7 linked regions of the Homo sapiens genome follow. The protein of the gene in region 1 purifies or fractionates together with the protein of each later gene. This does not show direct contact. Each region holds a gene or a part of one and is shown in the gene's direction. Other genes may lie near its edges. The genes, in order: SLC25A28, SPTLC1, RCC1, ETFA, COG5, DPM1 and LIPT1.

Region 1 (4,220 bases):
AACAACTGCTGAAGAGAGTAGAAAAAGTTTTTAAAAAGGAAGCCCAGAGAAGAGCTAAACTTTAGAAAGAAAAAAGGAAAACATCTTTCCTATCCAAGGAAAACCTATGAACAGATGGAGAAGTCCACAGTTGCATCATCTGGGTAAAACAGAGAAGACAGAGCTGGAAACCGCGGGCAGCTTGTGCCAACACGCTCGGGGAAGGCAAATGGAAGAAGACGCCCGTGCTCCCTAGAGCAGGAGGTCCTAAGGCCGGGAATCGCTGGCCTTGCCTCTCAGGACCCGGGCTGACCCGAGGGAGGGAGAAGCCCTCATCGCCAGGCGGGGGACCCATCAGCGCGCCGGCTCAGGGACAAAATACTGATGCTTCAGACTCGGCCAGGCCGTGCGTCCGAGCTTCCCCACAGCCGCCGCACTTCCCTGCTGCCTTTGGGATGCGGCCTCCAGCCCCGCCTCGCCACCGGCCGTCATCTGTGAATCATCCCGCCCATTTCGACATCTTCCTCCCCCGCCTTCGGCTCTTGGCCTGGCGCAGAGCCCAGTGACAGCCGGGGCCCGGGGAACCTCATTCATTCAACACTTGTTGGGTTTACTCTGCGAATGTGGATGCGAGGCTCAGTGCCGGGCGCTGGGGCCTGAGGAGCACCGAGTCCGGCCAGAGGGCCCAATACTCCAGACCCGACCAGAGTCTAGCGGGCCGCCGCGGTCCCCCCTGGAGGTGAGGCGGTTCCCAGCCCGCATGTCGCAACGGCTTCCCGGACAGGCTGCGGGTCGCGCCAGCCAGGGATGACCGGCCCAGGCCGGCCCCGCCTCACGCCCGCGACGAGATCCCGCGGGAACACGGCTCTCCGGGGCCAGGGCCGCCCGCTCTCCAGCCACGCGTCTCAGAATTTGAGGAGCGCACGGGAGCGCGGGTCGTAACGGCGCCCGTCAGCAGTTTGACGTTGAAGGCCTGTCGCCGCCCCGCCCCCGACGCGATCCCGCGCACAGGGACCGCAGCTCTGCAGGCGCTAGTGAGGGGCCCGAAGTCGGCCCCTAGAGTCCCTGGGCGCGTCGCTCTTTCTGTAGCCAATCGGGGACCGACGTGGTGCGGGCCAATGGCCGCGGTCAAAGTATCAAGAGTGGTTGAGCCTATCAAAGTTCAGCCTTAAGTTTCTCCCGCCCTTCTAAAAGTCAGAGGCGGGTTGATCGCACATGTCGGCCAATCAGTGACCAATAAACAAGAAGCTTCTAAGATCAAAGGGGAAAAGGTGGGATGTAGGCGCTAGCAACGCCTCAGGGCGGAGGAATGACAGGCGACTTCGCTAATACTACCGGCTGATTTTTCGTACGTAAGGAAAGGGGTGGGTCTAACTTGGCGTCTCCACCAATGGTTGCTTGGGGGGCGTGTCCGCGGGGCCAAGCGGGAGCCGGAGGCCCCGGGCTCTCTGGGCCGCGCCTGAGGCGGACACTACGGGGCCGGGGGGCGGCGGCGGCAGTGGTGGCAGCGGCGGCGGGGGTGGGCGCCGCAGCTGGCCCGGGTGGATGGAGTTGGAGGGGCGGGGTGCTGGCGGTGTGGCGGGGGGGCCGGCGGCAGGGCCCGGGCGGAGCCCCGGGGAGTCGGCGCTGCTGGACGGGTGGCTGCAGCGGGGCGTGGGCCGGGGGGCCGGCGGCGGGGAGGCCGGGGCCTGCAGGCCCCCGGTACGACAAGATCCGGACTCCGGCCCGGACTACGAGGCGCTGCCGGCTGGAGCCACTGTCACCACGCACATGGTGGCAGGCGCCGTGGCAGGGATCCTGGAGCACTGCGTGATGTACCCCATCGACTGCGTCAAGGTGAGACCTGCACCCGGCTTCGAACCCGACCTGGGGCTGACCCGACCCCTGGGTCTTGTCCGGAGCCAGGATCCCGGCTGAGAGCCGGAGCCGACATGGGTTCCTTCCTGGCTCCTGCCACTACCACATGATTCGAACCGACACTCCATTCAAGCAAGGTCCCAGCTGGGAGTTGATCCCAGTCAGGAACCAGGACCTATTTCTAACCGTCAGTGAAATCTGAATCGGGACTCAGGATCGAAAATCTGTCAGCCAAAGCCCTGGACCCCACCTGGGACTAAACAGGAATAGGGTGGGATGGGGTATCCCGAAGCTCAGGTAAGTGCTACTAACTCGATTAAGGTGAAGCCAACTGGCGTGAACCAGACCCTGAAATGGATCTAACGGCTTGAGATGTTTTCTGGGCTAGTGCTTTTACAAACTCCTTGCTGTATCTTCCCTTACTGACGGGGCAGGAACCCGAATCTGGGATCTCTCAGCTAGATAAAGGACTTACATGTTAAATCTTAACACATGAGTGATTGGAAATCATTGTGCAGTGAGAATGCAGAATTCCAGACTGGAAGTAATGTGGGAAAGATCGTATTCAGGAATAGGTTTCAGTTTCTCTGTGAAGCAAGCATGATACCCCACCTATTTCCTGAACATGAAAATTGAGCTGGGATTAGGACTGTATGTTCAGGGAGCACATCAGCCTCCAAACAAGAGAGATGAAACTGATAGCATATTTCTTTGGCCACCTGAAGTTGGCAAAAAGGGAGAAGTTGCCTAGAAAGGAAGTGTGACGGTATTAGAAAGTAGATGTAAGTATGAAGAAAATGGAAAGAGATCAACAAGAGGACACGATTCTTGTGAAAGTAAAACTAATTGCATTCACAACCAAGCAGGATGATTTATGTGTACTGAAGTCAGGTCCTTCTGAAGAAAGCTGGGTGAAGAAAGAAACAGATTATTGTTCTTTACAGTTCTTATTCTTGTACATTAGTAAAGGTGCCAGCCATTAAAGGTGAGGACTGAATTGAGGGAGAGGTAAACTAGAGGGGACTGTTGATATGACAAAGACCGATGCCTCCTTTACATGTGAAGGGTAATAGTCAAACAGTGACCTGGCAGCTTTTTGATGTATGTTTTCTCTTCAAATCAGGAAAGTGTTATGTATTCAAAAGGAGGAGAGAATCAACTTGGGAAAGGCAAAGTAGATCCCTTTTACTTCCCTTTGGTTCCAGTACTGTTTCATGTTTTTCATTAGAATGTGGATAAGGAAATGGGGGGAGCGCTCATTAAGCTTTGTGAATGACAGCAAACTGGCAGGAGTATTTTAACACAAGGTAACTCCTAACAAGGGCCATATCCATTGAAAACGGGGTAAATGCACTTGACTAAAATGGACATTAGAATGTTAAATGTCCTTGTCAATTGGGAGAAATAGAAATAAACTGTAAAATCCATGAGAGAGAAGTAACAACATTGAAATGTAAAACAAGTATAAATAAAAAAGATGCACACATTATATGTATAGACTCTAGGTTGAATGACTTGTGAGTTAATAATGCCGTATATCCAAAAGTTAATATAATCTAGCTGCAGAGTAACCTCCCTAGACTTAGACTGTGAGTAGAGTGCAGGGTTTAGGATGCTGTTTTTCTGGATGAGTATTGAATGGAAAACAGATCAATGAAAACAGTGAAAATTATGTAATGGCTTGAAAAATACAGTGTAATAATTTGTCTTAGAAATATTACTGTAACTTATCAATTTAACCACTGTTCCATTATAACAGAACGGGAGGTTATCTCCTTACTCCATATATTTACATAGTGCTATTGTTGCTATAAACATTTTATAAATCCCTGTTAAAAATGCTTCTAGAATATTTGGGTGCATGTCCTTAAGGGAGGCAAATCTTTGCCCTGTGACAAGATGGAATTGATTTTGCAAGAACAAAGACTATTCAGAATCAAATATGGTGAATAAAGTGGGAGGTCAAAATGGGTAATACTGCTTGGCATCAAAATAAGGTGGGACTGGAAAGCAAGGAGACTGCTTTACTTCTGAGGCCTATAAACCCGTTGAGGAAACACCTCTGAAAGAGAAGTTCCAGAAAGGTTTTGCATAACCACAGCTTTGCTGGAATAAGTCAATTGTAGCCTTCCAAGGTAACTATTTTGAAGAACAGTTCTTACTCATTTACATAAACTTTGGAATTTTTGTTTTTTAAAAATTAGTCATACAACATAGCAGTTATGCCTGAAAGCCCTCTATTAAGGAAATAATGATTTGAGAAAAAAATGCTCAGGAGTTGTCAACAATACGAAAGCTTATTTTAGAAGGCTCATTTTCACTTGCACTTAATGCTGGGATTTAAATGACTTAGAGGGAAGAACTAGGTGAGGCCAGTATGATTT
Region 2 (3,500 bases), on another chromosome or scaffold:
TAAAAATTTTGATGATGTCCAGTTTATGTGTTTTGTTGTTGCTTGTGCTTTTGTGTTTTATTTTAAAATCTTTGTTTAATCTGGCCGGGCACGGTGGCTCACGCCTGTAATCCCAGCACTTTGGGAGGCCGAGGCAGGTGAATCATTTGAGGTCAGGAGTTCGAGACCAGCCTGGCCAACATGGTAAAACCCCGTCTCTACTAAAAATACAAAAAAATTAGCCGGGTGTGGTGGTACACGCCTGTAATCCCAGCTACTCGGGAGGCTGAGGCAGGAGAATTGCTTGAACCTGGGATGTGGAGGTTGCAGTGAGCCGAGATCACGCCAGTGCACTCCAGCCTGGGCAACAGAGCGAGACTCTGTCTCAAAAAAAAAAAAATAATAATAATAATCTTTGTTTAATCCAAAATTATCAAGATTTATTGCTATGTTTCCCCCTAAGAGTTTATAGTTTTCAGTCTTACATTTAGGTCTGTAGTTCATTTGAGTTCATTTTTGCGTATGCGTTGATGAAGAGGTCCAATTTTATTCTTTCACAAGTGGTTATCCAGTTTTGCCTGCATCATTTGTTTAATGTTTCCCCATTGACTGGTCTTGGCACCCTTGTTGAAATTAATTGACCATAGATGTATGGGTTTATTTCTAGACTCTATTCTGTTTCATTCTTCTATATATCTGTCCTATGCCAGTACCACACTGTGTCAATTATTGTAGCTTTGTAGTGAGTTTTGAAATCAGGACATGTGAGTTCAACTTTGTTCTTTTTCAAAATTATTTTAGCTATTTGGGGTCTCTTGAAATTCCATTTGAATTTTAGGATTAGCTTTTCCATTTCTGTAAAAAGTATTGTTGGGATTTTGGTGGGGATTGCATTGAATATGTAGTCACATTGGGAAGTATTACCATCTTAATGATATTAAGTCTTCCAGTCCATGAACTTGGGATTTTTCCATCTATTTAGATATTTCCTTCAGCAATGTTTTGTGATTTTTAGTATATACGTCCTGCACCTCTTTGGTTAAATTTATCACTAAGTATTTGATTTTTTTATTCTACTATAAATGGAATTGTTTCCTTAATTTCCTTTTTAGATTGTTTACTGCTATTTATAGAAATACAACAGATATTTGTGTATTGCTTTTGCATAATGTAACTTCTGCTGAATTTATTAGCTCAAATAATACTTTTGTGGATCTTATTCTATGTATAAGATTACACCATCTGTGAATAGAGATAATTTTACTTGTTTCTTTTCAATTTGGATGCCCTTTATCTTTCTTGCCTGATTGCCCTGGCTAGGACCTCGACTACAGTGTTGACTACAGGTGGCGAAAATGAGCATCTTTGTCTTGTTCCTGATCTTATAAGGAAAGCTTTCAGTCTTCTACCATTGAGTATGATGGTAGCTGTGAGTTTTTTATAATAACCTTTTATCAGGTTGAGGAAGTTCCTTCCCATTTTTAATTTATTGAGTGTTTTATCATGAGAGGTTGTTGGATTTTGTCAAATTTTTTTTCTGCATTTATTGGGATGATCATGTGGGGTTTTTCCCCCTACATTCTTCTAATGTGTATGTAATACATATTTGATTTTTCCATGTTGAACCACCATTGCATTCGGCCATTGAGATTTTAATCTAGGAGTCTATTAATTGAATAAGGATTCAAAATAAGGGTTCCATATGTTGTTTTTAAATGTTTTCACTATTTCTGAGGAAATCTAAATATATTTTAAGTATCAATAGAAGAGATGTATTTGTTTTCTTCTTTTTGTTTTTGTAAGAGTGTCAATGGTTGATAGAATAATGGGAGGGAGGTAGTGAACCAGAAGATACTAGGACGTATATTATAGGGCTACAGTAATGAAGCAGTGCTAATGGACAGATACGAAACTAAAGATGAAGTGTAGGAACAGCTCAAGTGTAGATAAGCACTGAAGCTGGGCATGGTGGCTCACACCTTTAATCCCAACACTTTGGGTGGCGGAGGTAGGAGAATCACTTGAGCCCAGGAGGTCAAGGCTGCAGTGAGCCATGATCCTACCACTGCACTCTAGCCTGGGTGGCAGAGCAAGACTCTGTCTCAAAAAAAAAAAAAAAAAAATCAGTATTGTGCTGTCTTTTGTTAAGTGAATCATTTTAGACCATCTAAAGGACAATTGATTCTCATCATTCACCCTACTTATATTCTATAAAGTTGCCATGAACACTGGAATAAGAAATACTAAACTATTGCTGCTAGGGCAAATAATAGGGTTAGGTTCCTCTGAGCCTCTGGTTACAACATTTTCATCAACCAGTTGACACAAAACTTGCTTTATGTGTATTTTTGTTTAAAGGTGTCTTATTTAATGTCTGTTGATTCATTGCACTACCACTCATGCCTGAACAAAGCTTCTCTAACACACAAATTTTCTCCATAAGGGACATCACAGCACTAGGAGTAATAGACGGCACTTTAGCATGACACTTGGGGGCGACTCTAAATAGCAAAATCACCAACAAAAAGCACAGAAGTCCAAAAAAGTGGCAGTAAATAGGCCATGAAAAGGGTAGTTGTTCACAGGATCAGAGCTGAAACAGTCGCCTGTTCACCCTCACCTGGGAAAACACGTGTCAGGTAATTCAAATTCTTCACTGCTCTGCACATGCACATATCCGTGATGACAGGAAAAAAGTATTGATATGGAGGTTGCAAATAAGTTTTAATAAGTAGATGAATTTGCACATATAGAATTCACAAGTATTGAGAGTCAGCTGTACATACTTTTTAATCTTAATTTTTTTCTCCATAATATGTTCTATATGGTGCTAATCATTAGTATTTTAACGTTTATATAACACTTAGGTTAAGTTAAAATACAAATACAAAGCAAGAATCTTCCTGGAGGAAAGCCTTTCATTTGGAGTCCTAGGAGAGCATGGCCGAGGAGTCACTGAACACTATGGAATCAATGTAAGTTCCCCTTTTTTAAGAACGTTTCCCCTCTTATAGGAGACATGTAGTTCCATTCTGCTAGGCCTATATTTTTATAGGCACAAGACAGTGTTCCTTATCAGTTTGAAGGGTCACGAAACTTTGGTGTCTGTCACCTCAGTGAGCCCAGGATGAGTCTAGTCAGCCAGACCAGGGAACCCCATCTTCCTTCTGCACTTATAAACTCGGAGTGGGTAGTCATGGTTTGTGCTCTGTTTGCAAAGTTTCATTCGAATAGACTTTTAGTGTCTCTTCTCTAGAAATGGTTAAATTTTGCCTTCCAATTATTTCTTAAAATCATTAGGAATTTCCTGAGTGGTCTTTTCAGAAGTATTCATGACGGCAGAGAAAGGATACTGTTTCTGGTGTTTAAAAATCTGTATTCTATATAATGTGTTTGTGGGAGGTAGATACAGTTACGCGTGCGTGCGTGTGTGTGTGCATGTGTGTGTGTGTCAGAAACACCACTGGCATGCATTCAGCAAAACCTCTTAAAGTCCCAAACAGAATGAGGTGTCATGTTTC
Region 3 (3,500 bases), on another chromosome or scaffold:
TTTTTTTGAGACGGAGTCTTGCTCTGTCACCCAGGCTGGAGTGCAGTGGCGTGATCTCGACTCACTGCAAGCTCTGCCTCCCGGGTTCACGCCATTTTCCTGCCTCAGCCTCCCGAGTAGCTAGGACTACAAGCGCCCGCCACCACGCCTGTCTAATTTTTTGTATTTTTAGTAGAGACGGGGTTTCACCGTGGTCTCGATCTCCTGACCTCATGATCCGCCCGCCTCGGCCTCCCAAAGTGCTGGGATTACAGGCGTGAGCCACCGCGCCCGGCCAGAAGAAATTTCTAATAACACTCAAGGACGCCAGCTCTGGAGTCTGACTAACTTGGTTCAGATCTTGGCCTTCTCTTCCAATCTTGAGTGAGATACTTCACCTTTCTGAGCCTCAGTTTTCTTCTCTGTAGAGTGGGATCATTGTGGCCAGCTTGTAGTGAAACGCTCCAGAATATTAGCCAAACACAACTAAGGAGATGTTGACTGGGTTTGTTCCATCCATGATAACAGATTTTTTGGTTAATGCCCCATGACACCAACACTTCATATAGCCCTTATGTGTCTGACTCCATTCCGGGCTGTGCTCATGGCAGCCCAGCCATCAGCACCAACTGTGCTGACATAATTGTTTCCTGCTTTTTCTCCTGACTTCTTATTGTGAGTACTTTTCATGCTAATACAGTCTCCCTCCCAGGCACAGCAGACTGCTACAGATTATTCTGATGAACTGATGAGATGTTTGCCTTGGCATACAGCTGTCTATCTAAAACAAGGGTGCCTCTTTTTTTGGTGGAGGGACAGAGTTTCACTCTTGTTGCCCAGGCTGGAGTGCAATGGTGCAAACTCGGCTTACCACAACCTCCACTTCCTGGGTTCAAGCGATTCTCCTGCCTCAGCCTCCCGAGTAGCTGGGATTACAGCACGCGTCACCACGCCTGGCTAATTTTGTATTTTTAGTAGAGATGGGGTTCCTCCACGTTGGTCAGGCTGGTCTCGAACTCCTGACCTCAGGTGATCCACCCGCCTTGGCCTCCCAATCTGCTGGGATTACAGGCGTGAGCCACCGTGCCCGGCCACAAAGATGCCTCTTATATCCCACATCCCTACCCCATCTAACTTTGCCTGCCTGACATCCTTTCTGGGATGGCTCCCAAGCACTTCAGATTGAATGAAAACACCTAGCAACATGGAGCTTCACGTCTCTTCTCTCCTGTTTGTTCAACAGTGTTCTCTATCTCACTACATGGAAGTCTACCATCTACCTGGTCATTTAAGCCCAAGCCTGGGAGTCTTTGTGTTTGGCCAAGCTCATAGGGGGATCTTGGGCAGGCCTGCCAAGAATCCTCTGGACTTTTTTAGGATGAACAAATCAAGCCAAGTGCTGTGGCACGTGCCCATGATCCCAGGCTCTTGGGAAGCTGAGGTGGGAAGATCGCTTGAGTCCATGAGTTCGAGGCTGCAATAAGCTAATTGCACCACTGCACTCCAGCCTAGGTGACAGAGTGAGACCCCCTCTCTTAAAAAAATAAAATAAAAGGCCAGGCATGGTGGCTTACACCTATAATCCCAGCACTTTGGGAGTCCAAGGCTAGAGAATCGCTTGAGCCCAGGAGTTCGGGACCAGCCTGGGCAACATGGCAAGACGTTGTTTCTGCAAAATATACAAAAATTAGCCGGGCGTGGTGGTGCACACCTGTAGTCCCAGCTATCCAGGATGGCTCAAGCCCGGGTGGTTGAGGCTGCAGTGAGCCATGACCATGCCACTGCACTCAAGTCTGGGCAGGACCCTGTCTCAAAAATAAATACAAAGGATGAACAAATTATGAGAGTAAAAAAGGGTTAGTCTCCTTTATCCTTGCTACACCTCCTCACCCAAAGCCAAGCAGTAGTGTAGCAGGATAAGCCGCAGACAAAACCCCCCAGACACCCAGTTAAAGAAGGAAGGGCTTTATTCAGCTGGGAGCTTTGGCAAGATTCACGTCTCCAAAAACTGAGCTCCCCGAGTGAGCAGTTCCTGTCCCTTTTAAGGGCTTACAACTCTAAGGGGGTCTGCATGAAGAGGTCGTGATTGATTGAGCAAGCAGGGGATATGTGACTGGGGGCTGCATGCACTGGTTATCAGAACGGAACAGAACAGGACAGGGATTTTCACAGTGCTTTTCCATACGATGTCTGGAATCTATAGATAACATAACCGGTTAGGTCAGGGGTCGATCTTTAACCAGACACAGGTCGCGGCGCCAGGCTGTCTGCCTGTGGATTTCATTTCTGCCTTTTAGTTTTTACTTCTTTGGAGGCAGAAATTGGGCATAAGACAATATGAGGGGTGGTCTCCTCCCTTAGTAGTAAAGCACTATAAATATTTGTGGATTTACAACCATTTCATTCAGTCTTGATGACAGCCCTGAGAAGTAGTCATTGCATCCCCTTTTATAGATGAGGATACAGTTCAGAGAGGTTAAGGCAACTGGCCAGCCACAAGCTCTGGAAGGTGAACCCAGTTCCCTCTAATCCCAAAGAATGTGCACTTTTTAGTGTGGGACAAGGGGTCTCAAAAGACAGGTGGGAGGATTCTCAGCCCTGGGAGAATAAAAGTTGGGTGAAGTTCAGAACTGCCACCTCATCAGTCAGAACTGGGCCAGTGACAACCTGCAGAAGCTCAGCCTGCAAAGGCTTATCAGGATTCTAGACCTTTGGTTACTTTCCCATCTTTAGTATTTAGTTCTCCTTCCCCAGGATAATCAGCAGAAAAGTGCCTGGCCTTGTGTCCATATACCATGGAGGGGAGAGCTAGAGAGGCGAGGTTCTCGGGAACCACTAGAAGGAAGGAATGAGGGGGCTGCTGGTTAGGCCCAGAGCTGAGACCGAGAAGGGCTCTTGGAGTTCTCCTTCCCTTCGTAACATTAGGTAGAGGCTTAGACAACTTGATTGTTTTTCATGACCTTAAAGACTGTGGCTCCGGCCGGGCATGGTGGCTCACAGCTGTTGTAATCCCAGCACTTTGGGAGGCTGAGGCGGGTAGATCGCTTGAGCCCAGGAGTTCTAGACCAGCCTGGGCAACTTGGCAAAACCCTGTCTCTACAAAATATATAAAAATTAGCTGGACACTGTGATGCGCACTTGTAGTCCCAGCTATTCTAGAGGCTGAGGTGGGAGGATCACCTGAGCTCAAGAGGTCAAACCTGCAATGAGCCGTGATTGTGCCACTGCACTTGAGCCTGGGCAACAGAGAGTGAGATGCTGTCTCAAAAAAACAAACAAACAAACAAACAAAAACAAGTACTTGATGACTCCATTGGGGTCAATTATGAAGAGACCTCTTAGTGCAAGACCAGGACCTTCTAACAGCACACCGAAGTCTCGAGAAATTCGCTTAGTTAAATCTGACAAGGGTGCGATGTTTATGTGGCCCAAAGCACCATTCTTTCTTGGTGTATTTATCCAGGCAAGACGGCTAAAGTGGGAATCCACTGAGACTGCAACAACTTCAAAGTTCACATCGT
Region 4 (3,500 bases), on another chromosome or scaffold:
CTGGGTTCACGCCATTCATCTGCCTCAGCCTCCCAAGTAGCTGGGACTACAGGTGCCCGCCACCACGCCCGGCTAATTTTTGTATTTTTAGTAGAGACGGGGTTTCACCATGTTAGCCAGGATGGTCTCGCTCTCCTGACCTTGTGATCTGCCCGCCTCGGCCTCCCAAAGTGCTGGGATTACAGGTGTGAGCCACCGCTCCTGGCCGAGGATTTTCTTTAGATAAAAACATCACTTCATTTTTTAGTTTTGTCTAAAATCATTTATCATTGCTGTATTTTTTCCCCCAATTTTTTTTTTTTTTTTTTGAAATAGAGTCTTACTCTCACCCAGGCTGGAGTGCAGTGGTGTGATCTTGACTCGCTGCAGCCTCAACCTTCTAGGCTTAAATGATCCTTCCATCTCAGCCTTCCAAGTAGCTGGGGCTACGGGAATGCGCCACCACATCTGACTAATTTTTTAATTTTTATCTTTCATAGAAACAGGGTCTTACTGTATTGTCCAGGCTGGTCTTAAACTCCTGGGCCAATTTTAGGTTTGCAGGGTATCTGTGCAGATTTATTATGAGTAAACCGTGTGTCCTGGGGGTTTGATGTACAGATTATTTTGCCGCCCAGGTAATGAACATAGCATCCAATAGGTAATTTTTTGATTCTCACCCTGCTCCCACCCTCCACCCTCAAATAGGCCCAGGTATCTATTGTTCCCTTCTTTGTATCCATAGGTATTTGATGTTTGGCTGCCACTTACAAGAGAGAACATTCCATGTTTGGTTTTTCTGTTCCTGCATTAATTCACTTAGGATAATGGCCTCCAGCACTGTCCATGTTGCTCTAAAGGACATGATCTCATTCTTTTTAATGGCTGTGTAGTATTCCATGGTGTATATATACCACATTTTCTTTACCCAGTCCATCCCTTGCATGGGCATCTAGGTTGATTCCATGTCTTTGCTACTGTGAATAGTGCTGCCATGAACATGCACATGCATGTATCTTTATGGTAGAATGGTTCATATTCCTTTGGGTATATTCCCAATTATGGTATTGCTGGGTCGAATGTTCTAAGTTCTTTGAGAAATCGCCACATTGCTTTCCGCAGTGGCTGAACTAATTTACATCCTCACCAGCAGTATATAAGCGTTCCTTTTCTCTGCAACCTTGCCAGCATCTGTTGTTTTTTGAGTTTTAAATAATAGCCATTCTGACTGGTGTGAGATGTCTCATTGTGGTTTTTATTTGCATTTCTCTAATGATTAGTTAATGTTGAGCATTTTTTTATATGCTTGTTGGCCACATATGAGAAGTGTCTGTTGATGTCCATTGCCCATTTTTTAATAGGGTTGTTTTTTGCTTGTTGATTTAAGTTCCTTATAGATTCTGGTTATTAGACGTTTGTCAGATGCATAGTTTGCAGATTTTTTTTTACCATTCTGTAGGTTGTCTGTTTACTTTGTTGATAGTTTATTTTGCTGTGCAGAAGCTCTTTAGTTTAATTAGGTCTCACTTGTAAGTTTTTATTTTTGTTGCAATTTCTTTTGGAGTGTTCGTCATGAAATCTTTGCCAGGGTCTATGTTCAAAATGCCATTTCCTATGTTTTCTTCTTGGGTTTTTATAGTTCGAGGTCTTACATTTAAATCATTTTTTGTTTGTTTGTTTTTTGAGATGGAGACTTGCTTTGTCACCCAGGCTGGAGTGCAAGGGTGCAATCTTGGCTCACTGCAACCTCCGCCTCCTGGGTTCAAGCAATTCTCCTGCCGCAGCCTTCGGAAGAGCTGGGATTACAGACTCCTGCCACCACGCCCAGCTAATTTTTGTATTTTTAGTAGAGACAACAGGGTTTCACCATGTTGGCCAGGCTGGTCTCGAACTCCTGACCTTAGGTGATCCACTCGCCTCGGCCTCTCAAAGTGCTGGGATTGCAGGTGTGAGCCACTGCACCTGGCAGAAGTTTTTTTGTTTTGTGTTGTTTTGTTTTTAAGTAGAGTTTGGCCTGTGTGGTAGTACACATCTGTAGTCCTAGCTACTCAGGAGGCTGAGGCAGGAGGATCCCTTGGGCCCAGGAATTGGACGCCAGCCTGGGCAACATAGAAAGACACTGTCTCTAAAAATAAAATTTTTTGAAAATAGACTTTATGTTTTAGAGCAGTTTTAGGTTCACAGCAAAATCCAATGGAAAGTACAGAGAGTCTTCCTGGTCCACACACCCACAACCTCCTCCACTGTCAACATACAGCACCAGAGTTGTCCATTTGTTACAATTAATGAATTTACATTGACATCAGCATTTCCCAGAGTCCATAGTTTACATTAGGATTCACTCTTTGTGTTGTACCTTCTATGGGTTTGGACAAATGGATAATGACAGGTATCTACCATTATTATATCATACAGAATAGTTTCACTGCCCCCGCCCCCACTCCCCCTGGAAAAAACAAAACAACAACAACAAAAAACCTCTATGCTTTGTTCTCCTAATCCCTGGCAGTCACTGATCTTTTTACTGTTTCTATAGTTTTGCGTTTAACAGAGTGTCATATAGTTGGGATTAGACAGCATGTAGCCTTTTCAGACTGTTTTTTTTTTCACTAAGTAATATGCATTCAAGGTTCCTCCATGTCATTCTCATTTCTTGTTACTGCTGAATAAGATTCCATTGTATGAATATTTATTCACTTACTGAAGGACATTTTGGTTGCTTCCAAGTTTTGGCAGTTATGAATAAACCTGCTGTAGACGTCTGGTTTTTGTGTGGACCTAAGTTTTCAACTCATTTGGGTACGTACAAAGGAGTGCAGTTGCTAGATTGTATGGTAAGATTATGTTTAGTTTTATAAGCAACTGCCAAACTGTCTTCCAAAGTGGCTGCACCAGTTTGCATTTTTACCAGCAATGAATGAGAGTTTCTGTTGTTCCACATCCTTACTAGCATTTGGTATTGTCAGTGTTTTGGTTTTTTACCATTCTAATAAGTGTGTAGTGGTATCTCGTTTTAATTTGCAATTTCCTAGTGAGCATCTTGATGTTGAGCATCTTTTCATATGCTTCTTGGCCATCTTCTTTGGTGAGGTACCTGTTCAGATCCTTTCCCCCTATTTAAATCAGATTGTTCATTTTTTATGTTGACTTTTAAGGGTTCTTTATTTTTTTTAGATAAGTCTTTTATCAGATATGTCTTTTGCACATATTTTGTCCCAGTCTATGGCTTGTGTTCTCATTCCTTTGATGAAGAGGTGTTTGTTTTGTTTTGTTTTGTTTTGTTTTGAGATGGAGTCTCTCTCGCCTAGGCTGGAGTGCAGTGGTGTGATCTCGGCTCACTGAAACATCCACCTCCAGGGTTCAAGTGATTCTTGTGCCTTAGCCTCCTGAGTAGCTGGGACTATGGCGTGTGCCACCATGCCCAGCTAATTTTCGTATTTTTAGGAGAAATGGGGTTTCACTCTACTGACCAGGCTGGTCTCGAACTCCTGACTTCAGGTGATCCATCGGCCTCGGCCTCC
Region 5 (3,500 bases), on another chromosome or scaffold:
TACTTACAAGCCATACATCTGATACGGGGATTAACGTCCAAAATATATAAGGAACTCAAATCAATAACAAGAAAACAACCTGATTTAAACATAGGCAAAGGACCTGAACAGACATTTCTCAAAAGAAGACATACAAATGGCCAGTAGATATGTGAAAAAACATTCAACATCACTAATCATCAGGGGAATGCAAATTAAAACCACAATGAGATTGCACCTCACACCTGTCAGAATTGACTTATCAAAAAGATGAAAGATACCGAGTGTGAAAGACGATGTACAGAAAAGGGAACCCTTGTATACTGTGGTTGGAATGTAAATTAGGCAGCCATTATGGAAAACTGTAAGGACGTTTCTCAAAAAACTAAAAACAGAACTACCACATGATCCAGCAGTCCCACTTCTGGATACATAACCTAAGAACTTGAAATCAGTATGTCAAAAGATATACGCACTTCCATGTTCATTGCAGCATTACTTACAATGGCCAAGTTATGGAATCAATCTAAATGTCCACCAACATTTAGATTGATAAATGGATAAAGAAAATGTGGTATACATACACAATGGAATACCATCCAGCCTTCAGAAAGACAGGAATTCTGTTAATTGCAACAAATAGATGAACCTACAGAACATTATGCTAAGTGAAGTAAGCCAGACACCAAAAGACAAATACCACATGACCTCACATATCTGTTGTCTAAAACAACCGAATACATAGAAACAGAGAGTAGAATGGCAGTTAGCAGCTATGGGGTGGAGGGAATAGAGAGATGTTGGTCAAAGGGTACAAAGTTGCAGTTAGGAGGAATAAATGATAAGTATTTAAGGTGATGAGTATGATTACCTTGATTCAGTCATTCCACACTGTATACATATAACATTACTGTGTATCCCCTTATTATATATTATTATAATTCATCAAAAATAAACATTAAAAAAATGAAATAGATTGGCACCATTTTCGGATAGGGAGGCTTCTTTTATTTGTTTGTTTTTGCAGCCTGGCCTTGTGGAGTGACAAACCTAGAGTAAAGCTAGGCTATGCAGTTGTCTGAATCTGGGAAAACCAAACCCCACATGAAGATGGCCGTCATTTACTAAGGCTCCCCTGTACCCAAGCGCCACTCCATCATGTGATGATACTGCAAACAAAAATGTTGCACCATACACCCTTCAGCAGCCTTGCTGTTGTTGGCACAGTCTTATACCTGTATGAAATCCCTTCCTGCTGGAACATAGGCCTACTTCTTCTATCTCTATCTGCTTCTGAAAGTGACGGACCTCTGGTTAGCATCCTATTTATAGTAACCACTGCTGTATTTGAAGATAATTAAGTTCAACTCATTCTCTTGCTCTAAGCATTTTAGTCATATCTGTTGTTCTTCTATAGACCATCACCAATTTCTCTACGTCATTCTCAGAATATGGAAACACTTAACTTGCTTTTTGAAAAAGATTCAGCATGATGTAGCCAGTGATCTCATTTATTAGAAAATATCAGGTGTTAGCTAGTTTTGGTATATCTCTTTCCTATAAATATTTCACATTCTTTTAATATATTCTTTAAAGAGCAATTATAAACATTTATAAATTATAAATAGTATTTCATGGAGCATCAGCTGGTATCATTTGTTGATCCAAATTAAAGCCTTTCCAAACCTCATCATCTAGAGGAAAAAACTGCATGCCATGTGTACTGTTACATAACCATTTCCACAGTCAGAATTCTGTTGGACTGATCTGATTAAATAGCACAAGAGCAGAGAGATCTTTGCCAAGAATTTGTATAGGGAAAGCAGCATTTTCTGTCATTGCAAAGCATAAAATGCTATTTCAGGATCCATTATTGATGCATTCAGTTAGCAGGCAAAACATGTGAGTGGATGGAGAATTGAGAGGCTGGGAGGGACCTTGAGAGGCCAGAGAGTAGCACTTGTATGATTCATCCAAGACAGATGGTTGTCTATTTCATTCTTAATAATCTTTAGGTAAATGGATTCTAAAATTCCTTCAGTAATCCTCCTGGCATCTAAACCACTTTTTGAAATGTAATTTTTAAACATTGTTTTCTGCTAACGCTTATCAAAAAGTAATTAATGTCTTTTATACCATTAAGGGAAAACATTACAAAGGATTGAAATAGCAGCATTGGTGGGGAGAGGGGTACAAAATCAAAGAGTGTGATTTAGTGCAGCGGTGCTGAAAAGGGCTGCTTTTTCTTTTACAGGTCATTATCCAGCTCAGGAAAACCTGATGTTCCTTGTTCTCTGTACATGAAGGAGCTACAAGGTTTCATTGCCAGAGTTATGAGTGACTATTTTAAACACTTTGAATGCTTGGATTTTGTCTTTGACAACACTGAGGCTATTGCCCAAAGAGCTGTTGAACTTTTTATCCGCCATGCCAGTCTCATAAGACCTCTTGGTGAAGGTGGGAAAATGCGACTTGCTGCTGATTTTGCACAGGTACATTGATGAATTACTACAAAAGAAAAAATGTTTTGGCCTCAATATCATCTATTAAATGAAAGAATGTGTTTTCATCGGTGTTTTTAAAGAGTTGCAGCACAAAGAAAAGTAAGCCCACTTAAGCATAAATAGTTAAAAAAAAAAAGGGAGAGTTTAAAGATACTTTTATACCAGATATATTTTTCTTTGTATTTAACAAAATAATTATCCCTCTCTTTGGTATTTCAAGGTTAAGGTGAAATAGCTCATTCCACAGGAAAGCAGCACTTCCCATTTTTATTTCATATGGGATTTTCTCACTATTTTACTGTCCCAATAGGTCAAACCTTGCTGACCAATAATGTAGGCAATGAAATCATATTTCAAACAGTGAAAAGAGACCGCTTGTTGCCATGTCACCATTCCGAGGCAGTGTTCCCATTCCTTTAAATGCACAGTGGGCCAGGTAGACATAGAGTCTGATTATTTGTTCTCTCTCTATCAGGTAGAGTACAGTTCTTCTCTGTGGCTAGCCTTGAAATCATTTCAGGCTATCTGATGTGTGTGAGAGATAGAATGACATTAAAATAGCAAAACATTATCAGCTCTTATAGAAAGCGTTTTCTTTGTCCTTTAGACAGATTTTTTAAAGCCTTTCAGTAGGCAATGAAGAAAAACCCCAAACATGCTTTCATTAAAAGATTCAGAAACAAAGATGATTGTTATTTTTGTATAGCATACCAAGGGTAAAATCTTTTTCTTTTTGAGACAGAGTCTTGCTCTGTCGCCCAGGTTGGAGTGCAGTGGCACAATCTCAGCTCACTGCAACCTCCACCTCCTGGGTTCAAGTGATTCCTCTGCCTCAGCTTCCCGAGTAGCTGGAACTACAGGCACGCGCCACCACGCCTGGATAATTTTTGTATTTTTAGTACAGACAGGGTTTAACCGTATTGGCCAAGCTGGTCTCAAACTCCTGACCTTGTGATCCACCCGCCTTGGCCTCCCAAAGTGTTGGGATTACAGGCGTGAGCCACCACACCTGGCTGG
Region 6 (3,500 bases), on another chromosome or scaffold:
TGTAATGCTATCCTGCCTCACATAGAAAGGGGCCATCAGATTGATATGAAGAGGCAAAAAAGGATCAGGGGAGGGTGGAGAGGTGGAATTAAGAGTCTGAAAGTAAAGCATACCAAATAGAAATAGTTTGGATTTCCTACATAAGAAATAAACAAGCACATCCTTGTAAAATATAAATGTTACCAGTAAAACCGAAGTTGCCTTTGATGAACATTTTATTTATTTATTTATTTATTTTTTTTTTGAGATTGGAGTCTCGCTCTGTCGCCCAGGCTGGAGTGCAATGGCAAGATCTCAGCTCACTGCACACTCTGCCTCCTGGGTTCAAGCAGTTCTCCTGCCCCAGCCTCCCGAGTAGCTGGGATTACAGACCTGCACCACCATGCTGGCTAATTTTAGTATTTTTAGTAGAGACTGGGCTTCACCGTGTTGGTCAGGCTCTTCTTGAACTCCTAACCTCAGGTGATCTGCCCACCTCAGCCCCGCAAAGTGCTGGGATTACAGGCGTGAGCCACCACGCCCGACCTGATGAACATTTTCTATAGGCATCCCATTCCCTTGCACAGGGGAGACCCAGGTCAACAGTTTGGTGCGTTTTTTTGTGCATATATGTGTGTATGTGCATTTGCAGAACTAGGTAGTGTGGTGGTCTTGTTTTTTAAAACATAACTGCCATCTTCCTGTATCATCATTACTTCTAATTCTGTCTTGGCGATCTTTTGTCACCAGCTCACCTCATTTCTGTTAATGGCTCCATAATACTCTAATATTTTATATAAACCTTTGAAGATTCTGAAAATTATAAGTATCATAGTCTCCTTGTCCATGGTTTTGCTTTCCGTGATTTGTTACCTGCAGTCTGAAAAGAGGTAAGTACAGTACAAGAAGATTTTTTGAGTTAGACCAAGTTCACATAACTTTTATTACAATATATTGTTGTAATTGTTTTATTTTATTATTGGGTATTGTTAATCTCTTACTGTGCTTAATTTATAAATTAAACTGTGATAGGTGTGTATGTATAAGAAAAAGTATATATAAGGTTTGGTACTATTGGAGATTTCAGGCATCTCCTGGGGGTCTTAGAAAGTATCACTTGGGGTTAAGGGGGTGTGCAACTGTAACAAAGTTATGTTTGTTTGTTTGTTTGTTTGTTTGTTTTTTGAGACGGAGTCTCACTGTGTCACTGAGGCTGGAGTGCTGTGGTGTGATCTCAGCTCATGCAACCTCTACTTCCCGGGTTCAAGCGATTCTTCTACCTCAGCCTCCTGAGTAGCTGGGATTACAGGCACGTGCCACTACACCTGGCTAATTTTTGTATTTTTAGTAGAGATGAGGTCTCACCACGTTGGCCAAGCTGGTCTCTTAACTCCTGACCTCAAATGATTCACCCGCCTCAGCCTCCCAAAGTGCTGGGATTACAGGTGTGAGCCACTGCATCTGGCCAAAGTTATCTTTTTTTAAAAGAAAGATTTTCCAGCTAAAACAGAGTTGTAGAAAATCTCAGATGAGCTTTAAAAAATTTGCTTTTTCAGGGCAGATACCAGATGGGGATCAGTATTTTGTCAGAAATTATTCACAAAATCAAATAAAATCTAGCTGTGATCTGATATATCCTGCTCGATTTTGTTCAGTGACTTGCAATTATCATAGATGCTTATTTGAATGTCTTTCCTTCCTGTAAGCTCTTACCAGACAGCAGTGTATTTTATCCATCTTTATGCAAGATGTACTTTGCTATAGATACAAATTGTGACTTAAAATTTTTTAAATGTGGGGATAGTGGAGTAAAAGTGTAGAGGATTTCTTTTTAGCAGTTAGAGTTAGATTGTTATCAGCTTAAAATAGCCTGTTATCACTATAAGATGGGTTTTGTAAGTCTCATGGTAATCATAAAGGAAAAGCCTAAAGTAGATTCACAAAAGATAAAAAGTAAGGAATCAAAGCATAATAGTACAGAAGATAATCATAAAGGAAAGGAGAAAGAGAAAGAAGCAAAAGATCTACAAAACAACTAGAAGCAATTAACAAAATGGCAGTAGGAAGTTCTTACATTACATGTCGGTAATTACCTTGGATATAAAGGGATTAAATTCTCCAAAGACCTGGAGTGACTGAATGGATTTTTTAAAAAAGAGCCAACTATATGCTTCCCACAAAAGACTTGACTTGTAAGGATACACATAGACTCAAAGTGAAGGGATGGAAAAAGACATTCCATGCAAATAGAAACCTCCAGCAGATTGCATATAGTGAAAAAAAAAAAAAATCATCTGCTTTAATTGAAAATGCTTTGTTGAGAGATTTGCAGTCAGAGGCAACCTGCTTATATACTGGCAAGTGTAGAAGGGGACAAGATAGACAAGACATGCTCACTAATGAGTCTCCCTGAACCCCATACCTCAGAAACGTAGGGCACAGTGAGAACTTTGGCATTTGACTTTTAAAGTGTCCAGCCAAAAGGAAAAACTAAACAAGTAAAAGTCAGGCTCCAACTATTAAGCAAAAAGATTTAGGAGGACTAAGTGATTGACCAATAGTAAGAAAAGAGAAAGAATTTAATTAGGAATATGACATGTCCTTGGACCAGTAGAGGAGATGAGGTCATCCAAGCATAAGGTCAAGATAAGTTAATAGAGGAAGAGTGATATTAGTATTCAAAACCCAAAGGGAATCGAGAGAACAAACATCAGATTTCCCAAGAAGGTGCAAAATAATGAAGTAAGTCCTACATTTTTCTAGGAAGGAATCAATAGATTTAAAAGGAAAATCAAATATAGATGTAAAGACATATTTAAAATAGAGTGAGTGACACCAGAAAAAAAAGTTTAAAATTGTGATTGTAGGGTCAGGGTTAAAGAATGTTGCTTTGCTGGACGGGCGCGGTGACTCATGCCTGTAATCCCAGTGCTTTGGGAGGCCGAGGCGGGCGGATCACGAGGTCAGGAGATCGAGACCATCCTGGCTAACACGGTGGAACCCTGTCTCTACTAAAAATACGAAAATTAGCCGGGCATGGTGGTGCATGCCTGTAATCCCAGCTACTCTGGAGGCTGAGGCAGGAGAATCACTTTAACCCAGGAGGCAGAGGTTGCAGTGAGCGGAGATCACGCCACTGTACTCCAGCCTAGGCAACAGAGCGAGACTGCATCTCAAAAAAAAAAAATGTTAGCTACGTTAAACTATTTGGTTTGTTACCAAATGCTTTTTTTTTTCTTTTGGCAAAAAAATATTAAGGATACTTTGCTTTAAGTTCTAACAAGTGCAACTATATTTCTATTAAAGTGAGTATGCACTTTTGAATAAGATAAAATTTAACATGATAAGATTTCTGTTTCTGTGTGTAAAATGCTATTTCTTATTCCTACAGCTTCTAAGACCACGAGAGAAAAAGTTGGGACTAGGTAAGTCGTGTAATCTCTAACCCCTCACACCTGCTGCTTGCTTGGTGACATGATCCAGTGTGTATTTTCCCAGTTTGGAATAGGGCCAAAATACAG
Region 7 (2,836 bases), on another chromosome or scaffold:
AAATTATTTTTAAAGTGTTATAAAGACATAATGAAAGCTTTCCACGGAAATGTTCATGAACACATCGTTGATAACCAGAAAAACTAGAAGCCACCTAAAATTACAGACTAAGAGACTGAGTAAACTTGTTAACAATGGAATATTAAACAGTCATTAAAGCTGATGCAAAATAGATTTAATGGGCCAACGCGGTGGCTCATGCCTGTAATCCCAGCACTTTGGGAGGCTGAGGCGGGCAGATCACCTGAGGTCAGGAGTTCCAAGACCAGCATGGCCAACATGGTGAAACCCCATGCCTACTAAAAATACAAAATTTAGCCACACGTGGTGGCAGGCGTCTGTTATCCCAGTGAGGTAGGAGAATCGCCTGAACCTGGGAGGCGGAGGTTGCGGTGAGCCAAGATCACGCCACAGCATTCCAGCCTGGGTGACAGGGCGAGACTCCGTCTCAAAAAAAAAAAAAAAAAAAAAAAAAAAAAAAAAAAAAAAAATATATATATATATATATATATATATATATATATATATATATATATAGATTGAATGTCGAATGAAATAATAGTATGGGGAGGGAAATGTGTGTGCGTATACATGCTTAGAAATAAAATGGGTTTACACCAAAATGTTAATTGTGATTAGGACTATCAATGCTTTTATTTTTTTCTTCTTGCTTGTCTGTATTTTCTCATTTTTCTCGATGAACATTTGTTACTTGTGAATTCAACATAATTTGGCTTTAAGATATAGGTAATGTGGCTGAGTGCAGTGGCTCATGCCTGTAATCCCAGCACTTTGGGAGGCCAAGGTGGGAGGACTGCTTGAGCCCAGGAGTTTGAGACCAGCCTGGGCAACATGGTGAAATCCTGTCTGTAAGAGAAAAAAAAAAGATATATTACATAATGTATTTGCAGCAGACTTATTGTTTGAAAACTGTGAAATTATTTCAACTGAAATTATTTGAAATTTGTCTTCATTTATTTCTTTTGAATACTTGGTTATAGCATTGCTAAAGACTAATTGTAAAGCTAAAAGCCAAAAGCAACTGCACTGGATACTTTAAGTTTGGATTAAATAACCGATAATTGATAGTTAGAAAATAGAATTTAATGTTCCTTTTCTCGATGAATTAATTTGTTTGTCTTCCATTTTTAAAAGCATGCTGATCCCATTTTCAATGAAGAATTGCTTCCAGTTACTTTGTAACTGCCAGGTCCCAGCAGCTGGCTTTAAAAAAACAGTAAAAAATGGGCTCATTTTACAGTCAATTTCCAATGATGTCTATCAAAATCTGGCTGTGGAAGACTGGATCCATGACCATATGAATCTAGAAGGCAAACCAATTCTATTCTTTTGGCAGAATTCTCCCTCTGTTGTAATTGGTAGGCATCAAAATCCTTGGCAGGAATGTAACCTGAATCTAATGAGAGAAGAAGGTATAAAACTGGCTCGGAGAAGAAGTGGAGGAGGAACAGTCTACCATGATATGGGTAATATCAATTTGACTTTCTTTACAACCAAAAAAAAGTATGATAGAATGGAAAATCTGAAATTAATTGTGAGAGCTCTGAATGCTGTCCAACCCCAGCTGGATGTGCAGGCTACCAAAAGATTTGACCTTTTACTTGATGGACAGTTTAAAATCTCAGGAACAGCTTCTAAGATCGGCCGGACTACTGCCTATCACCATTGCACTTTATTATGTAGTACTGATGGGACGTTCTTGTCTTCTTTGCTAAAGAGCCCTTACCAAGGGATCAGGAGCAATGCCACTGCTAGCATACCTTCCTTAGTGAAAAATCTTTTGGAAAAGGATCCCACTCTGACCTGTGAAGTACTAATGAATGCTGTTGCTACAGAGTATGCTGCTTATCATCAAATTGATAATCACATTCACCTAATAAACCCAACGGATGAGACACTGTTTCCTGGAATAAATAGCAAAGCCAAAGAACTGCAAACTTGGGAGTGGATATATGGCAAAACTCCAAAGTTTAGTATAAATACTTCCTTTCATGTGTTATATGAACAGTCACACTTGGAAATTAAAGTATTCATAGACATAAAGAATGGAAGAATTGAAATTTGTAATATTGAAGCACCTGATCATTGGTTGCCATTGGAAATACGTGACAAATTAAATTCAAGTCTTATTGGCAGTAAGTTTTGCCCAACTGAAACTACCATGCTAACAAATATATTACTTAGAACATGTCCACAAGACCACAAACTAAACAGTAAATGGAATATTCTCTGTGAAAAAATTAAGGGAATAATGTGATTCCAAGTAAATGTCTTAATACAGTTTCAATTAGAAAATAAAATGTCTCATACTTGCACATTGTATGTCAAAAAAAAACCTAGTCTCTTTTAGTAACGTCAAAAAAAAAAAACAAAACACAACAACCTAGTCTCTTTCAGTAACTTCTCCCCATCTGAAATTCTTTATCACCTATCCCTATCTGTGTATTTCTTCTGACCTCTAGGATCCTCTTTCTTCTCTTTCTTCCTTCATTTATTTTATTTTATTTATTTCATTTATTTATTTTGAGACAGAGACTCACTCTCACCCAGGCTGGAGTGCAGTGGTGCGATCTTGGCCCACTGCAACCTTTACCTCCTGAGTTCAAGTGATCCTCATGCCTCAGCCTCCCGAGTAGTGGGACTACAGGGTTTTGTCACCATGCCCAGCTAATTTTTTCTATTTTTAATAGAGACAGGGTTTCACTGTGTTGGCCAGGCTGGTCTCAAACTCTTGGCCTCAAGTGATCCGCCGACCTCAGCCTCCCAAAGTGCTGGGATTACAGGTGTGAGCCACCATGCCCTGTCTGTTCATTGA

Evidence for each region.
Region 2: the proteins of SLC25A28 (region 1) and SPTLC1 purify together in Homo sapiens (affinity purification with mass spectrometry, with the first as the bait; one large-scale study listed by BioGRID). This does not show direct contact.
Region 3: the proteins of SLC25A28 (region 1) and RCC1 purify together in Homo sapiens (affinity purification with mass spectrometry, with the first as the bait; one large-scale study listed by BioGRID). This does not show direct contact.
Region 4: the proteins of SLC25A28 (region 1) and ETFA purify together in Homo sapiens (affinity purification with mass spectrometry, with the first as the bait; one large-scale study listed by BioGRID). This does not show direct contact.
Region 5: the proteins of SLC25A28 (region 1) and COG5 purify together in Homo sapiens (affinity purification with mass spectrometry, with the first as the bait; one large-scale study listed by BioGRID). This does not show direct contact.
Region 6: the proteins of SLC25A28 (region 1) and DPM1 purify together in Homo sapiens (affinity purification with mass spectrometry, with the first as the bait; one large-scale study listed by BioGRID). This does not show direct contact.
Region 7: the proteins of SLC25A28 (region 1) and LIPT1 purify together in Homo sapiens (affinity purification with mass spectrometry, with the first as the bait; one large-scale study listed by BioGRID). This does not show direct contact.

What each region holds. Positions count from the first base shown.
Region 1 is NC_000010.11:99,617,640-99,621,859, reverse strand, and holds the start of SLC25A28 (mitoferrin-2), read left to right. Parts: upstream 1-1,420; 5' UTR 1,421-1,524; coding exon 1,525-1,815; intron 1,816-1,827; exon of another isoform or gene 1,828-2,112; coding exon of another isoform or gene 2,113-2,133; intron 2,134-4,220. UniProt on the Homo sapiens protein: Mitochondrial iron transporter that mediates iron uptake. Probably required for heme synthesis of hemoproteins and Fe-S cluster assembly in non-erythroid cells.
Region 2 is NC_000009.12:92,049,414-92,052,913, reverse strand, and holds part of SPTLC1 (serine palmitoyltransferase 1), read left to right. Parts: intron 1-2,846; coding exon 2,847-2,954; intron 2,955-3,500. UniProt on the Homo sapiens protein: Component of the serine palmitoyltransferase multisubunit enzyme (SPT) that catalyzes the initial and rate-limiting step in sphingolipid biosynthesis by condensing L-serine and activated acyl-CoA (most commonly palmitoyl-CoA) to form long-chain bases.
Region 3 is NC_000001.11:28,523,043-28,526,542, forward strand, and holds part of RCC1 (regulator of chromosome condensation), read left to right. Parts: intron 1-3,315; exon of another isoform or gene 3,316-3,500. UniProt on the Homo sapiens protein: Guanine-nucleotide releasing factor that promotes the exchange of Ran-bound GDP by GTP, and thereby plays an important role in RAN-mediated functions in nuclear import and mitosis.
Region 4 is NC_000015.10:76,301,470-76,304,969, reverse strand, and holds part of ETFA (electron transfer flavoprotein subunit alpha, mitochondrial), read left to right. Parts: intron 1-3,500. UniProt on the Homo sapiens protein: Heterodimeric electron transfer flavoprotein that accepts electrons from several mitochondrial dehydrogenases, including acyl-CoA dehydrogenases, glutaryl-CoA and sarcosine dehydrogenase.
Region 5 is NC_000007.14:107,235,421-107,238,920, reverse strand, and holds part of COG5 (conserved oligomeric Golgi complex subunit 5), read left to right. Parts: intron 1-2,233; coding exon 2,234-2,471; intron 2,472-3,500.
Region 6 is NC_000020.11:50,948,533-50,952,032, reverse strand, and holds part of DPM1 (dolichol-phosphate mannosyltransferase subunit 1), read left to right. Parts: intron 1-3,370; coding exon 3,371-3,404; intron 3,405-3,500. UniProt on the Homo sapiens protein: Transfers mannose from GDP-mannose to dolichol monophosphate to form dolichol phosphate mannose (Dol-P-Man) which is the mannosyl donor in pathways leading to N-glycosylation, glycosyl phosphatidylinositol membrane anchoring, and O-mannosylation of proteins; catalytic subunit of the dolichol-phosphate mannose (DPM) synthase complex.
Region 7 is NC_000002.12:99,160,802-99,163,637, forward strand, and holds the end of LIPT1 (lipoyl amidotransferase LIPT1, mitochondrial precursor), read left to right. Parts: intron 1-625; exon of another isoform or gene 626-720; coding exon of another isoform or gene 721-867; intron 868-1,155; 5' UTR 1,156-1,156; coding exon 1,157-2,278; 3' UTR 2,279-2,336; downstream 2,337-2,836. Other genes in the region: MITD1 (MIT domain-containing protein 1), read right to left, coding at 721-867. UniProt on the Homo sapiens protein: Lipoyl amidotransferase that catalyzes the transfer of lipoyl moieties from lipoyl-protein H of the glycine cleavage system (lipoyl-GCSH) to E2 subunits of the pyruvate dehydrogenase complex (PDCE2).